Linked DNA regions of Homo sapiens: all the other regions are reported to be linked to region 1. Evidence: microRNA targets listed by miRTarBase, many of them from high-throughput screens and not tested one by one. Region 1 holds a microRNA gene; each other region holds the end of a gene's coding sequence.
What was found. Region 1 holds the annotated microRNA hsa-miR-510-3p (AUUGAAACCUCUAAGAGUGGA, at 2,014-2,034, opposite strand). A microRNA usually pairs through its seed, bases 2 to 8, with sites in the 3' UTR of a target mRNA and lowers its output. Matches are read on the target gene's strand: a 7mer-m8 pairs with bases 2 to 8, a 7mer-A1 pairs with bases 2 to 7 and ends in A, and an 8mer does both.

Region 1 (3,160 bases):
GACGTTACGCACATCCCTGAATTTGGAAAACTAAAATATGTACATATATCCATTGATACCAATTCCCACCTAATTAGCACTCATGCTCTTCCCGGAGAGTTTGCCCAGTATGTCATTAAACATATTCTCTTAAGTTTTGCGTTTATGGGGCGGCCCACAAAAATTAAAACTACTAATGGTCCAGCTTACACCAGCTCACAATTTCACCAATTTTGTCACACATGGATGTCCAATATGTGACATCCACAGGCATCCCGTACAAATCCCAAGGACAAGTCATAGTAGAACATGCCCATTCCACCCTTAAAAATATGCTCAGAAAACAAGGGGGAATATGAGTAAGGATGCTGCAACACTACTAGCATAAGCCTTATTTACCCTTAATTTTTTTAATTTAGATAAATTTCAATCAGCCATAGAAAAGCATTTTGCAAAAGCCCCTCAAGACATAAAACCCATGGTTTTATGGAAAGAAGTTAATAGTAATCTATGGTGTGGTCCAAATGATTTGCTGACCTGGGGAAGAGAATATGCTTGTGTTCACACGCCCTCAGGTCCTCTTTGTATTCCAGTGTGACAGACACATCAAACCATACCATGGCGTGGCTAAGACCCAAGCTGGTATCAAAAATAAAGGAAACGACGCTGCAGGACCCGCAGCCCCAGACGATGTGGCTTCCTCCGATGACACAGGCCCCAGACATTACCTGGGGGAAGCTGAAGAAGACAACTCAGGAGGCCGAGTGAATCCTTCTCTGGACACAGACACCATCACTCCAGATAATCTGTTCCTTGCTATGCTCTCTATTGTACCTTGCAACTCTCATAGGGTATTCACCTTTCTTATTCTCTCACTTTGCCTGCAACTCATACCTGCTACATTCTATTGGGCCCATCTTCTAAGATCTGCCTTTCTTCCAACCTGTTACCTTGGCAGACACCCCCTTCCCATCCTCTAATAATGTAACTGCTTAGCTGGGAGGGGTTGACATGCCCCCAGTGGGGTTCCTTAATAATGGCACACATTGAACTGAGGTGCCAAGTAACACTACATATCTCTCCTTGATTGGAAAAGAATAATAGTGACTATACTAATGTTTGACTTATGTTATTTACTAATTCTAGGATGCAAAGCCGGAACACGAGCTGTAACCGCTGCGCCTGTCAAATCTGTCACTGCACACATCTGTACTATTCAATCAACAAAACCCGATGCTAAAAACAGAAAAGGGGGAGACGCGGGAGATCGGTCAGAGTGGTAGGAGAAGGTATAGGGAAAGGAACAGACCTTCTGAAAGGCGGGAAGGCTCTGGATAGCTTCAGGGATGAATAAGCTGAAGGCAGCTGTTCTCTTACCCTGAGGCAGAGGGCAAGGGGTAGGTAAGGAAGTATAGGGGAATTTGGCATAAACAGGCTTGTTTACTTACATTGTCCGGAAACCGACTTTGATCATCAGGGCAGGAGACTGCTCCCTGAAAGGGGGAATAATAATGTTAATTACCCACAGATTGTGTTGGCTCCAGGCTTTCATTATTTTGTCTGTACTGAATAAAAGCAAGCAGCTCCAGCTGTTCGAGACTGCTCACTCTTCAGCCATTAGTGCTGGGCATTCCTGTAGCTGCTCTTACACTGCATGCCTGTGGCTGAGTACTCCTTTCATCCGTTGCTTGGCCAGGGTCTGTGGGATGGACCCCGCAGGTAAGGGTTATCAAAAAAAAAAAAAATTCACAGGCAGATAGGAACACCATGACCATACTAAAAGGCTTTTTTCCCATTTTAGTCTTGCAAGTTTGTAAAGAAGGATATGAAGCCCCTAAGAAATCAGTGAAACACTTTTTCCCAAAACCTTTATTTCCTATGTCTTGTCTTCAGAAGTTTATCTAGAAACTCCCCAGCTAGTTTAGTATTGAGGAGGGTACCAGATGGACTATCTATGTGCTAAGAAAAGCATACCACTGCATGCAACTAAATATCTGCAATATCATTGCATATGTAGTACATGTCATGTGTTACTCCACTCTTAGAGGTTTCAATCACACCTAATTACATGTGATTGCCACTCTCCTGAGTAGGACACCACACACATACACAGCATTCCTGAAAATGGGAGCACAGCCTAAATACTTAATCACACACTTTTCAAACAACCTCTCAAATGTTTTCAGTCTGTAAGTGGCCGTTGGCATTTATGTAAATGATTCCTGAAGAACCTACATCATTTTTTATTCACTCATTCCCCCTTGAGTGTTGTCCACTCATGGTTTGGAGTTTTCACATGGCAGTTTTCAGGACTAAGAACCTTCCTGCTAGGCTCTCCTGCTAACGGGAAAAATCTCATTCGATGCCTTATTCTATTTCTTTTCCCATTGTTTTATATAAAGTATTAATGAGTAGATTGCATTCCCCAGATTCAGTAGCTACCCAGACACTACACTCTATCTCACCAATCTGTGCCTATCATCCAAAGATCTGAGTTCTTCTACCTGAGTTCCTTACTACAACTCCTCACTACAGAATAAGCAAGGACATCACACAGGATCCTGGAAGCAAAGAAGAGAGAATAATCAGTGAGTGGTAAGATGGAGAGAGTAGAATTTCTTTTATCCTCATCAAATTTTGAAGTGAAAAAAAAAATCCCATTTTACTTACCAGGAGTGATCTACAAAACAGAAATTGTGCTAGGCACCCAGACACTCTTAGAGATTTTTCAGTTTCTGGGTTTTCTTCGTCTTTTCTGGGAGCAAGGTTCTTTTTAGCATGTGTTTGCATTTTTCCAATCTGAGACACATGCTACTAGGTGACTGTGTTTCCCTGCAAAACTAAAATTAGCACACACAAAAATATGGACACAATTTTGGTGACTGGATTTCAGAGACTGAGAACTGAGAATTTAAAGTGACTGTGGCTTACAAAATTACCTGTTCCCCTATCTCCTAATCAAGAGCAACAATATACTTGTGGGTTTAAGAAGCCTCCAGAATTTCTCATCCACTCCACAAACCCAGTTTAGTGTTTCAGAGGCTAAATACTAGGCATGTGAGGTTAGAGGTCAGGGGCCTGCTACTATAGCCATTCTTCATCACAGGGTTTAGGCTCTATACCAGGTGCAGCCGGCGGAGATAATTGAGTACGTAATACTCCTCATCTCAGCTTAATCATC
Region 2 (3,160 bases), not on the chromosome of region 1:
TCACATCAGTCCATAGGGTAGGGACTAGTACTCTCATTCTATACAGAAATAAACTGAGGCTTACTTGCCCAGAGTCAGTGTATGGTGGATTTCAAACCCAGGGTGACTGATTCTGTAGTCCATGATGTCAGCCACTGTATTTCCTGTTCATATATTGACATCTTGTCCATATAATATTTTGAAATGCTGCTGAACCTTGACATCTCTACATTTCCTTTTTACTTACATCATTATTAAGATCACTTTCTGAAAAACCGTTGTAGGCTGGGAAGTTAGCAAGAACAAATCAATTTATTTCTGTCTTTTGGAAGGTGAAAGTATTTTCAGCCTACTCGTGCTGCTGACTTAATCTTTTCCTTTTTTTTCTGATTTTCAAAACCAGATGAAACGACTACAAAGTGCCATGACAGAAGGTGGTGTGGTTCTACGGGAACCTCAGAGAATCTATGAATAAATGGAAGCATTAATTGTTTTGAACATGTAAATATAAATCTGTCAGCCACTACAGCCATCAAAAGAGAGCATCTGGAAGAACAGCCAGCTTGGAAGTTTTACAGCAATAATGTTGCAGTGGAATATTATTTGTAGTTAAGGTCATCCTCCTCCCCTTTCTGTTTTTTTAAATCAAGAACTACGTTCTGCCCCTCTCTTGGGCTTCAGAAGCATCTAAGAAAAGCAGTCATCAATTATAATTAACTTTCAAAGGGCAAGTCAGAAGTTGTTTATAAATTACAAAATAAAGGCATATTATGAACTCTTATTTTCTGGTTATATGACATTGTCTGAGCTCACTGTGGCAGTGGAGCACATATGAGGTTGATGTAAAGCACTTATTACTGTGTCTAGTTCATGGCGAGTGATCTCAGTGAATGACAGTTGTTTGCTGCTCGGAGTGTGGGTTGTTTTTTAAAATAGGAAATGTCAGTATCAATCTAATACTATAGAACAGTCAGTATGTGAAAATGAAAGGACCAAATGCCAACCTCACTTGGACTCTTGGTTCCCAACAGTAAGAGAAACAAATTTGAAAGAGGAAGGAGGTGGCATCAGGAGCTGAAAGCAGAGGTGGAAATGGTTGGGGTTAGTGGGCGCTCAATTTGCCATGAAGTGAACATTTTATTAGATAGGAGATGAAACTTGAAATGCATGCAAGTTAATCTAAAATTTGAGCTTGGGTAGATGGGAATCATGGCAGTTCTCTGAAAGGAGCTGATTAAGGTGTTAATTTTTGGCTATTTGATAAATGTGAGAAAAAACCTGTAGGCAGTTAAGGTGGCTTCTAGAGCATTGTTTTCCAGTTTTTTTAATGTATACCCCAATTAAATGTTTGTTTAGAAGTGAAATATGTTACTTCTGCCAATTTGAGTATTCAATGTGTTATTTTAAATGGAACACATCTGTATGAAGTATGATTTGTTCTGAGAGGTCTTCAGAATCAAATGGCTTAATAGTCCCCTTTTGCTTAATTAATGTCCCGGAGAGGCATTTAAAAGTATAATTGAAGATCGGATGCAGTGCCTCACACCTCTAATCCCACCACTTTAGGAGGCTGAAGCAGGTGGATCACTTGAGGCCAGGAATTCGAGACCAGCCTGGCCAATACGGTTTAACCCTATCTCTACTAAAAACAAAAATGAGTTGGGCGTGGTGGTGCATGCCTGTAATCCCAGCTGTTCAGAGGCTGAGGCGGGAGAATCGCTTGAACTCAGGAGGTGGAGATTGCAGAGAGCCGAGATGGCACCACTGCACTCCAGCCTGGGTGACAGAGTGAGACTGTCTCAAAAGGAAAAAATAAAGTATAACGGTAATGTTTTCTCCGCTAACCTTAAAGATTGATTTGAGCACCTCACTTTGAGGACCATAGTTCCAAAACGCTGTTCAAGTAGAAGCCTAGAATTCAAGGGAGGACACTGTAAGGAAGACCATGGACTAGTTGCACTGGAAACAGTAACAAAAGTAAAAATTAAGCTCACATGTATGTGATGATGTAGGTAGGGATTTCCGCAAGGAGTGAGTGCACGAGATAATCCCTGGGGACCAAGGATTCCTTCAATTTAATGGGCAGTTCTTGAGGCTTTGCAAAGTTTGATTGCAGGTGTGAAGACAGTGGTAAGGTGGACAGCAGAATGAGGAAAAAGATGTCCAGGGGCGTGGGAGAGGGAATGGGGACAGACATACTGGCAGTGATGGAGAAGTTGGGAAGAGGTGATTTAGAAGACCGTGAGCCGCAGCAAAGGATCTGCTTATTGCAGTTGCGTCCGGTGTTGTTCCTGCTCCGCTTTTCTGATTTCACCCTTTCTGGACTCTGTCTTCGTCTCCTGCCACGCCTCTTAACATTCTAAGTCCATGTAAATGACATTCTCACGTTAAGGGCTGCAAAGAAATTGCTGAGGAGCCAGGTAAACAGGCTTTGATTGCAATTGCAATCAAACCTCTGTAGCAAATCGTACAATTAAAACACCCGCAGGCAGGTGTGGGCGACGCCAGCAGCACACGGGGAAGCTGGGCACGTGGGGCGGAGGCAGCTGCCTGGTTTCCATGTGTGCGCCCTTTAAGACCCGGCGGCGCGACGGAAGCGCGTGGGCAGCACGTGGGCAGCACGTGATAGCGCTGGGCGACTCCGCGGAGCTGCACGGCCATGGACGTGGGCGCCGACGAGTTCGAGGAGAGCCTCCCTCTGCTGCAGGAGCTCGTCCAGGAGGCCGACTTCGTGGGTGAAGAGCCTGGGATTCGCGGCTGTGCCGGACAGAGCCCCTTGCCCCGGGCGAGCTTGAGGAGGGGGTGGCGGGACGGTTGCCAGGCCACAGGGCCTCAGAGAGGGCCTCGGGAAGGACAGGGGGGCTTCCTTCTCCAGCCCCGGGGCGGTGGGACTTTGAGCAGCAAGTACACTCCGAGCCCCACGTCCCTTGTTGGCCAGAGCCCCGTGCGCCCAGGTGCCTGGCTGCTCCTTGCCTTGGTTCCTCCATTTTCCCTTCCTGACCTCACTTGGCTTCTTGAGCGCAGAGGTGAGCGCGGGTGCCTTGGCCGCCTGCAGATCTACAGTGTGAGGAGTGCTGGCGATGTTCTGCACCCGAGGACTGCTATTTTTTGCCTTCCTGGCAGGTCTGGACATAGAGTTCACGGGCCTTCGTTCTAACCTGTCTGGGCCCCAGCAGATCAG
Region 3 (3,160 bases), not on the chromosome of region 1:
AGGCAAAATTACTTGGCAATTTCTACCTGTTATTACACAGATATAAGGGTTTAAATAAAAACTTAAAAACAAGATGCTGAATTGATTACAGCTGCTCATATTTTAATATGCTTATTGATGGCCATGAAAACCTAAGTGGAATGTATGAAAAATTCCCAGAAATATAGTCTTCACAGGATGTTAAGCCTCTTGTGCTTCTCATTAATACTTGGAGAGTGATCCAGTATAAAATCTATAGTTGAGACAGGAATTCTCTAAAGATATATTTCTTTTTCTTTTTTTTTTGAGACAAAATCTTGCTCTGTCACCCAGGTGGCAGTGCAGTGGTGCAATCTCGGCTCACTGCAGCCTCTGCTCCCAGATTCCAGCGATTCTCCTGCCTCAGCCTCCGGGTAGCTGGGATTACACGCATGTGCCTCCATGCCCAGCTAATTTTTGTATTTTTAGGAGACACAGGGTTTCACCATGTTGGCCAGCTGGTGATCCTCCTGACCTCAGGTGATCCACCCGCCTTGGCCTCCCAAAGTGCTAGGATTACAGGTGTGAGCCACCACGCCTGGCCAACAAAGATATGCATTCTTTCATTTACCTTATTATTGATTTCTTCTTTTCTAGGCTTTTTGGCAACAAAGTAATTTTTTTAGTAATCATGATTTGAGTCCTTGCTGCAAGACTTATACATATGAATCTGTATCTATATATATTTGTGTTCTGTTCTCTTTAAGCTTTAATTGGTCAAGAAACCATTTGCTATATATATATATTTATATATAGAGACACAGAGAGAGAGGTTATACATTAAAAAAAATACCAAAATAGTTTCTGTAAATGAAATACTACTTGGAAAACTAATTGGCACTTCCCCCGCACCCGCCCCCACCCACCCACCCCTTCCCAAGCCAATCTATTGCTCTGGTACTTGATAGCAACCACAAAATAATCTAATTCTCTTGGTGTTCAAACCTCTAACACTAAACCTTAATATCAAGTTTTACACTATAATTACTTTTTATTTTCTCAACTTTTCCTTTTCCCACCTCAAATACTTTTAAAATGGCATGTAATATGTTTTGGGATGACATTCCAATTTAGAAATGCTTCTGATATATGTTATTCTCTGAAGAAGTAATTTTTGGCATGTGTAATAAGGTTATTTTTATTTTATTTTATTTTATTTTGAGATAGAGTCTTGCTCTGTCACCCAAGCTGGAGTGCAATGGCATGATCTTGGCTCACTGCAACCTCTGCCTCCTGGGTTCAAGCAATTCTCCTGCCTCAGCCTCCCAAGTAGCTGGGATTACAGGTGCCTGCCACCAAGCCGGCAAATTTTTGTATTTTTTAGTAGAGACAGGGTTTCACCATGTTGGTCAGGCTGGTCTCAAACTCCTGACCTCAGGTGATCCACTTGCCTCGGCCTCCCAAAGTGCTGAGATTACAGGCGTGAGCACTGCGCCTGGCTTAAGTTTATTTTATAAGTGATATAATCTGTGCTTTATAACAACAGAACCTTTAAGAATAACTTAGGAAAAAATAATTATTTTTCTCTTTTCTGATCTTTGGACAGATTCAATAAATGTTATGATTTCTAGTGATTATCTACAACTTCCAAAATCATACCAACCATAATAACACTGTAAGTATTTAATGCAGCAAAAATTCAAGTTTTTTTTTTCCAATTTTGACTTTTCAAATTTAAATGCTATATATAGATATTTGGTTCCTTACACCAATGCCCATTAGGCTGGTGATATAAGGCTCACACACATTTTCTGGAAATATAAAAAATCTAAATGAGTTGTCTTGTATTTTTGGAAAATAAACTCAAGTGATTGGGTAACAGGGTCACAATTGTACTGGAAAAATGCTTTCTGACAAAATGATACTTTTCCCCCCCGAGTCAATCTAGATAATCAAGATTGGCTACAGCCAAATTATGGTGGAGCTGGCCCAAATTTTCATAACTCTGTGTTCAGTGATGTCATATTAGTAGTTTGAAATTGGTCAAAGGTAGGAGTATTTATACCACAGAAATCAGCAAAAGCTACCAATCAGAGGTTCCCCTCCTATTCTGAAGAGTCTTTAAATATTTGCCAGCACTTCACTGGCAATGGCCATTATTGTTTCAAAATACCATTCAACTCTTCATTGTTCATAAGAATCTTATTTGAAGATCTAAATGGTTGGGGGTGTTTTCTGTGTGAATCTGTCCTCGAAAAAGATTTAAATGTTTCTCATTCATTTATAGTCATGGAAATGTTAGAGTTTCACTGTGAAGGCCTTATTATGTGAGACCTTCCCCAAAGAGAGTTCTTCCTTTTATATCAGTTGTATTCTATTCCAAATAAACTGCTTACAATTCAATCTTTTAGAGATAGGGTCTTGCTATGTTCCGTAGGCTGGAGTACATTGGCATAATCATACCTTACTGCATCCTCATACTACTGGGCTCAAGCAATCCTCCCACCTCAGCCTCCCCAGTAGTTGGGAATACAGATATGTACCACTACACCCAACTAAAATTTGGATTGTTATTTGAAAAAATGGTATTCTATTTTTTAAAACTCAATCCATGCTTGTGAAGCAAAATATGTAGACTTCGAATAGAACCTAACAGATTATAGTTCTCTGTCATAAAGTCTATGTGGTTTAATGATAAAAGGTTAATTTAAAAATTTTGTAAAGTATAAAATAAACAATTTTATTAGATGAACTCATTTATTTGACATATTAAATTAGACAAAGAAATATATATGTAACCAGATAAAAACAATCACATTCTCATACTACTTGAACACATAGCAGTGGTCAAAAATAATGGATTGTAAAATGGACCCCAGGATTTAATGCAAAAACCACCCCATACGAGAAAAGTTTCAGGCTTCTAACTTCACTGAATCCAGTACTAAACGTGCTTCTTTATATTCCTCAGCTTCTTCCAAGTCTTTTTCATTTTCCTAAAATGAAATACAATAAAAATTAAGTTTATCCTTTTCAAGTTTCAGTACTTTGTTATTTACTCAAATATTACAAACCATTAATGTTAATAACTAAAAAATTAAAAGTAAAAAATCCCAAGCCTCATCTAAATATATTGTAATTCCACAGGTTTCCCACATTCTGTTCCTTCTTTACAAGGAAAGGAAGAAATAACTGGTGGTTT
Region 4 (3,160 bases), not on the chromosome of region 1:
TCTGTCAATTCTTTGACATTTATTTTGAATTATTTGATGCTTTAAAAGCCTTTCATAGACTTGATATGTACAGGCAAATTAACTTACTTTCAGTGTTGGTATCCTTATTTTTATCCTTCAGATATAAAGAGAATATTATGAAATTATCAAGAATTCAACATGATCAACCAGTAAAGCCCCTGGATCGAGCAGTCTTCTGGATTGAATTTGTCATGCCCCACAAAGGAGCCAAACACCTTCGAGTTGCAGCCCATGACCTCACCTGGTTCCAGTACCACTCTTTGGATGTGATTGGGTTTCTGCTGGCCTGTGTGGCAACTGTGATATTTATCATCACAAAGTTTTGTCTGTTTTGTTTCTGGAAGTTTGCTAGAAAAGGGAAGAAGGGAAAAAGAGATTAGTTATGTCTGACATTTGAAGCTGGAAAACCAGATAGATAGGACAACTTCAGTTTATTCCAGCAAGAAAGAAAAGATTGTTATGCAAGATTTCTTTCTTCCTGTGACAAAAAAAAAAAAAAAAAAAAAATTTTCAAATCTACCTTGTCAAGTAAAAATTTGTTTTTCAGAGATTTACCACCCAGGTAATGGTTAGAAATATTTTGTGGCAATGAAGAAAATACTAGGAAAATTAAAAAATAATATAAAGCCATTTGAGCTCATATTGAAATTTGTTGCACTTATATTGAGATTTGTTGTTTGAATTCACAAGTTACATGAAAAAATTTACTCAGCTTAACTATATTTCACACATTTTACATAAACACAAGAACATTAAGAAGTCTACTGACAGTATCAGTAGTCACATCCTCAGAATAATTTGGCTTCATTTTGAACAGGATTCTGTTGTTTTAACTGTTGCTAAAGAAACTATTACATAGTTAAATTGTATATAAAGTCTCTCTCTTCCTTTTGATATTTTGAGATAAGTAGTATTCCTTTACTTTTACACTGCATGCAGCTTCATTGTCACATTTTTTGCTAAAATTGATGGCCAAATGTTTACTGTTTTAAGAGCTCATGTCATTTCTCAGTGGAAATTATGTGGAATTAGAAATATAGCCACTCTTACCTGCTTCCTACTGTAAAATTGAACTGTTTTGCCACATCTTTGGTTTCATGAGCAAATTCTATTTTTTCCAGATATGTAAAAATATTTGTCTGGTTGATTTTATTCTGATATTTTTAATTACTTCAATAGTTATTTGGGAACAGGTGGTGTTTGATTAGATGCGTACGTTTTTTAGTGGTAATTTCTGAGGTTTTGTTGCACATATCATGTGAGAAGTGTACCTTGCACTGAATGTATAGTCTTGTATCTCTCACCCCCTCCCGGCCTCCCATCTGAATCCTTAGATCCCATTACATCATCCTTATGCCTTTGCATCCTAATAGCTTAGATCTGACTTAGAAGTGACAATTGATGATGTTCAGTTTTCTATTCCTGAATTTCTTCACTTAGAATAATGCTCTCCCACTTCATGCAAGTTGCTGTTAATGCCATTAGTTTGTTTCTTTTTACAGCTTAGTAGTATTCCATGGTGTATATATATACGTAGTATGTATATGCATGTGTATATATATATGTGTGTGTGTGTGTGTGTGTGTATCAGGGGAACCCATGTTCAATATTTCAATGTAGGTTCTTTCCATTTTCCATAAGTGTTGGCCAGCTGAGAAATAGAGAAAGAGTATAAAGAGAGGAATTTTACAGCTGGGCTACCGGGGGTGACATCACCTATTGTTAGGACCGTGATGCCCAGCATAGCCTCAAACTAGCAAGTTTTCTATTAAGGGTTTCAAAAGGTGGGGTGAGGGGGTGTAAGAACAGGGAGTAGGTACAAAGATCACATGCTTCAAAGGGCAAAAGGCAGAACAAAGATCACATGCTTCTGAGGGAACAGGACAAAAGGCAAAGCAGAACTACTGATAAGGGTCTATATTCAGTGGTGCATGTATTGATAAACATCTTAAACAACAGAAAACAGGGTTCGAGAGCAGAGAACTGGTCTGACCACAAATTTACCAGGGTGGAGATTTTCCCCACCCTAATAAGCCTGAGGGTACTGCAGGAGACCAGGGCATACCTCAGTCCTTATCTCAACCACATAAGACAGACATTCCCAGAGTGGCTGGTTTTAGACCTCCCCCCAGGAATGCATTCCTTTCCCAGAGTACTAATATTAATATTTCTTGCTAGGCTAAGAATTTAGCGATATCTTCCCTACTTGCAAGTCCATTTATAGGCTCTCTGAAAGCAGGAAAATACGGCTGTTTTTGTGTGATCCCACAGGGAGTCAGACCTTACGGTTGTTTTCCCTTGTTCCCTCAAAATTGCTGTTATTCTGTTCTTTTTCAAGGTGCACTGATTTCATATTGTTCAAACACACATGTTTTACAAGCAATTTGTACAGTTAACACAATTATCACAGTGATCCTGAGGTGACATACATCCTCAGGTTATGAAGATAACAGGATTAAGAGATTAAAGTAAGACAGGCATAAGAAATTAGAAAAGTATTATTTGGGAACTGACAAAGGTCCATATTAAAATGAAATCTTCACAATTTATGTTCCTCTGCCACAGCTCCAGCCAGTCCCTCCATTCAGGGTCCCTGACTTCCCACAACATCCCTCCCTTTCTTTTTATATAAATGTGCCATGGTGCAAAGTCTTGTTTGTTCTCTAGGTTTTGACACGGGAATCTTTGACTGGTCCAGCACACTAAAAACAAGTCGATTAAACAGAGAAATATTATTCCAAAATTTACTACCGTGGAGCCCCCAGTAGACTTAATCCAAGTCGTGGGGTTTAGTCCAGAAATACTTTCTGCCACCTGATCTAACGCCTCAGCTCCAGACACAATGGGTAAATGAGCTTGAGAGGCTTCAGAAATTTGTTTCTTTAATTTAGTTATGTCCAAGAATAAATTATCTTCCCTACCCAGAAGGTGTCCTTTGACCATTTTCCATGAATGATCAGTCTCATTGTAGGAATATGGTGTGATACAGAAATCAGAAGTATTCAAATCACACTGCATTTGCATGTGATGTTCGAGACTCATCAGCTGATTTCCAAGCCAAATAACAGACTGTCTTAAATCATTAATTTGATTAGCTAATTTTTGATCAATGTCTTGTTGAGAATTCCACATTTGGGTG

Region 2: the mRNA of MRPL18 is a reported target of hsa-miR-510-3p. Seed matches in the 3' UTR shown: 7mer-A1 at 698-704.
Region 3: miRTarBase lists TBCA as a target of hsa-miR-510-3p. The part of its 3' UTR that is shown has no 7-base or 8-base seed match.
Region 4: the mRNA of UGT2B11 is a reported target of hsa-miR-510-3p. Seed matches in the 3' UTR shown: 7mer-A1 at 530-536.

What each region holds. Positions count from the first base shown.
Region 1 is chrX:147,270,329-147,273,488 of GRCh38, forward strand. MIR510 (microRNA 510) reads right to left here and starts at 2,080; the gene lies at 2,007-2,080. LOC105373347 (periphilin-1) reads left to right here. Exons shown (of 4, transcript XR_005647084.2): 4 at 555-1,567.
Region 2 is chr6:159,797,670-159,800,829 of GRCh38, forward strand. It overlaps MRPL18 (mitochondrial ribosomal protein L18), which reads left to right. Exons shown (of 4, transcript NM_014161.5): 4 at 383-760. The coding sequence ends at 454. It overlaps PNLDC1 (PARN like ribonuclease domain containing exonuclease 1), which reads left to right and starts at 2,607. Exons shown (of 19, transcript NM_001271862.2): 1 at 2,607-2,714; 2 at 3,103-3,160. The coding sequence starts at 2,639.
Region 3 is chr5:77,688,545-77,691,704 of GRCh38, forward strand. TBCA (tubulin folding cofactor A) reads right to left here. Exons shown (of 4, transcript NM_004607.3): 4 at 2,622-2,954. The coding sequence ends at 2,874. Among named protein-coding and RNA genes, the nearest start is that of OTP, 51 kb to the left of the region's middle.
Region 4 is chr4:69,197,681-69,200,840 of GRCh38, reverse strand. It overlaps UGT2B11 (UDP glucuronosyltransferase family 2 member B11), which reads left to right. Exons shown (of 6, transcript NM_001073.3): 6 at 122-890. The coding sequence ends at 401. It overlaps LOC105377267 (a long non-coding RNA gene), which reads right to left. Exons shown (of 6, transcript NR_136191.1): 3 at 263-369. Among named protein-coding and RNA genes, the nearest start is that of UGT2B11, 15 kb to the left of the region's middle.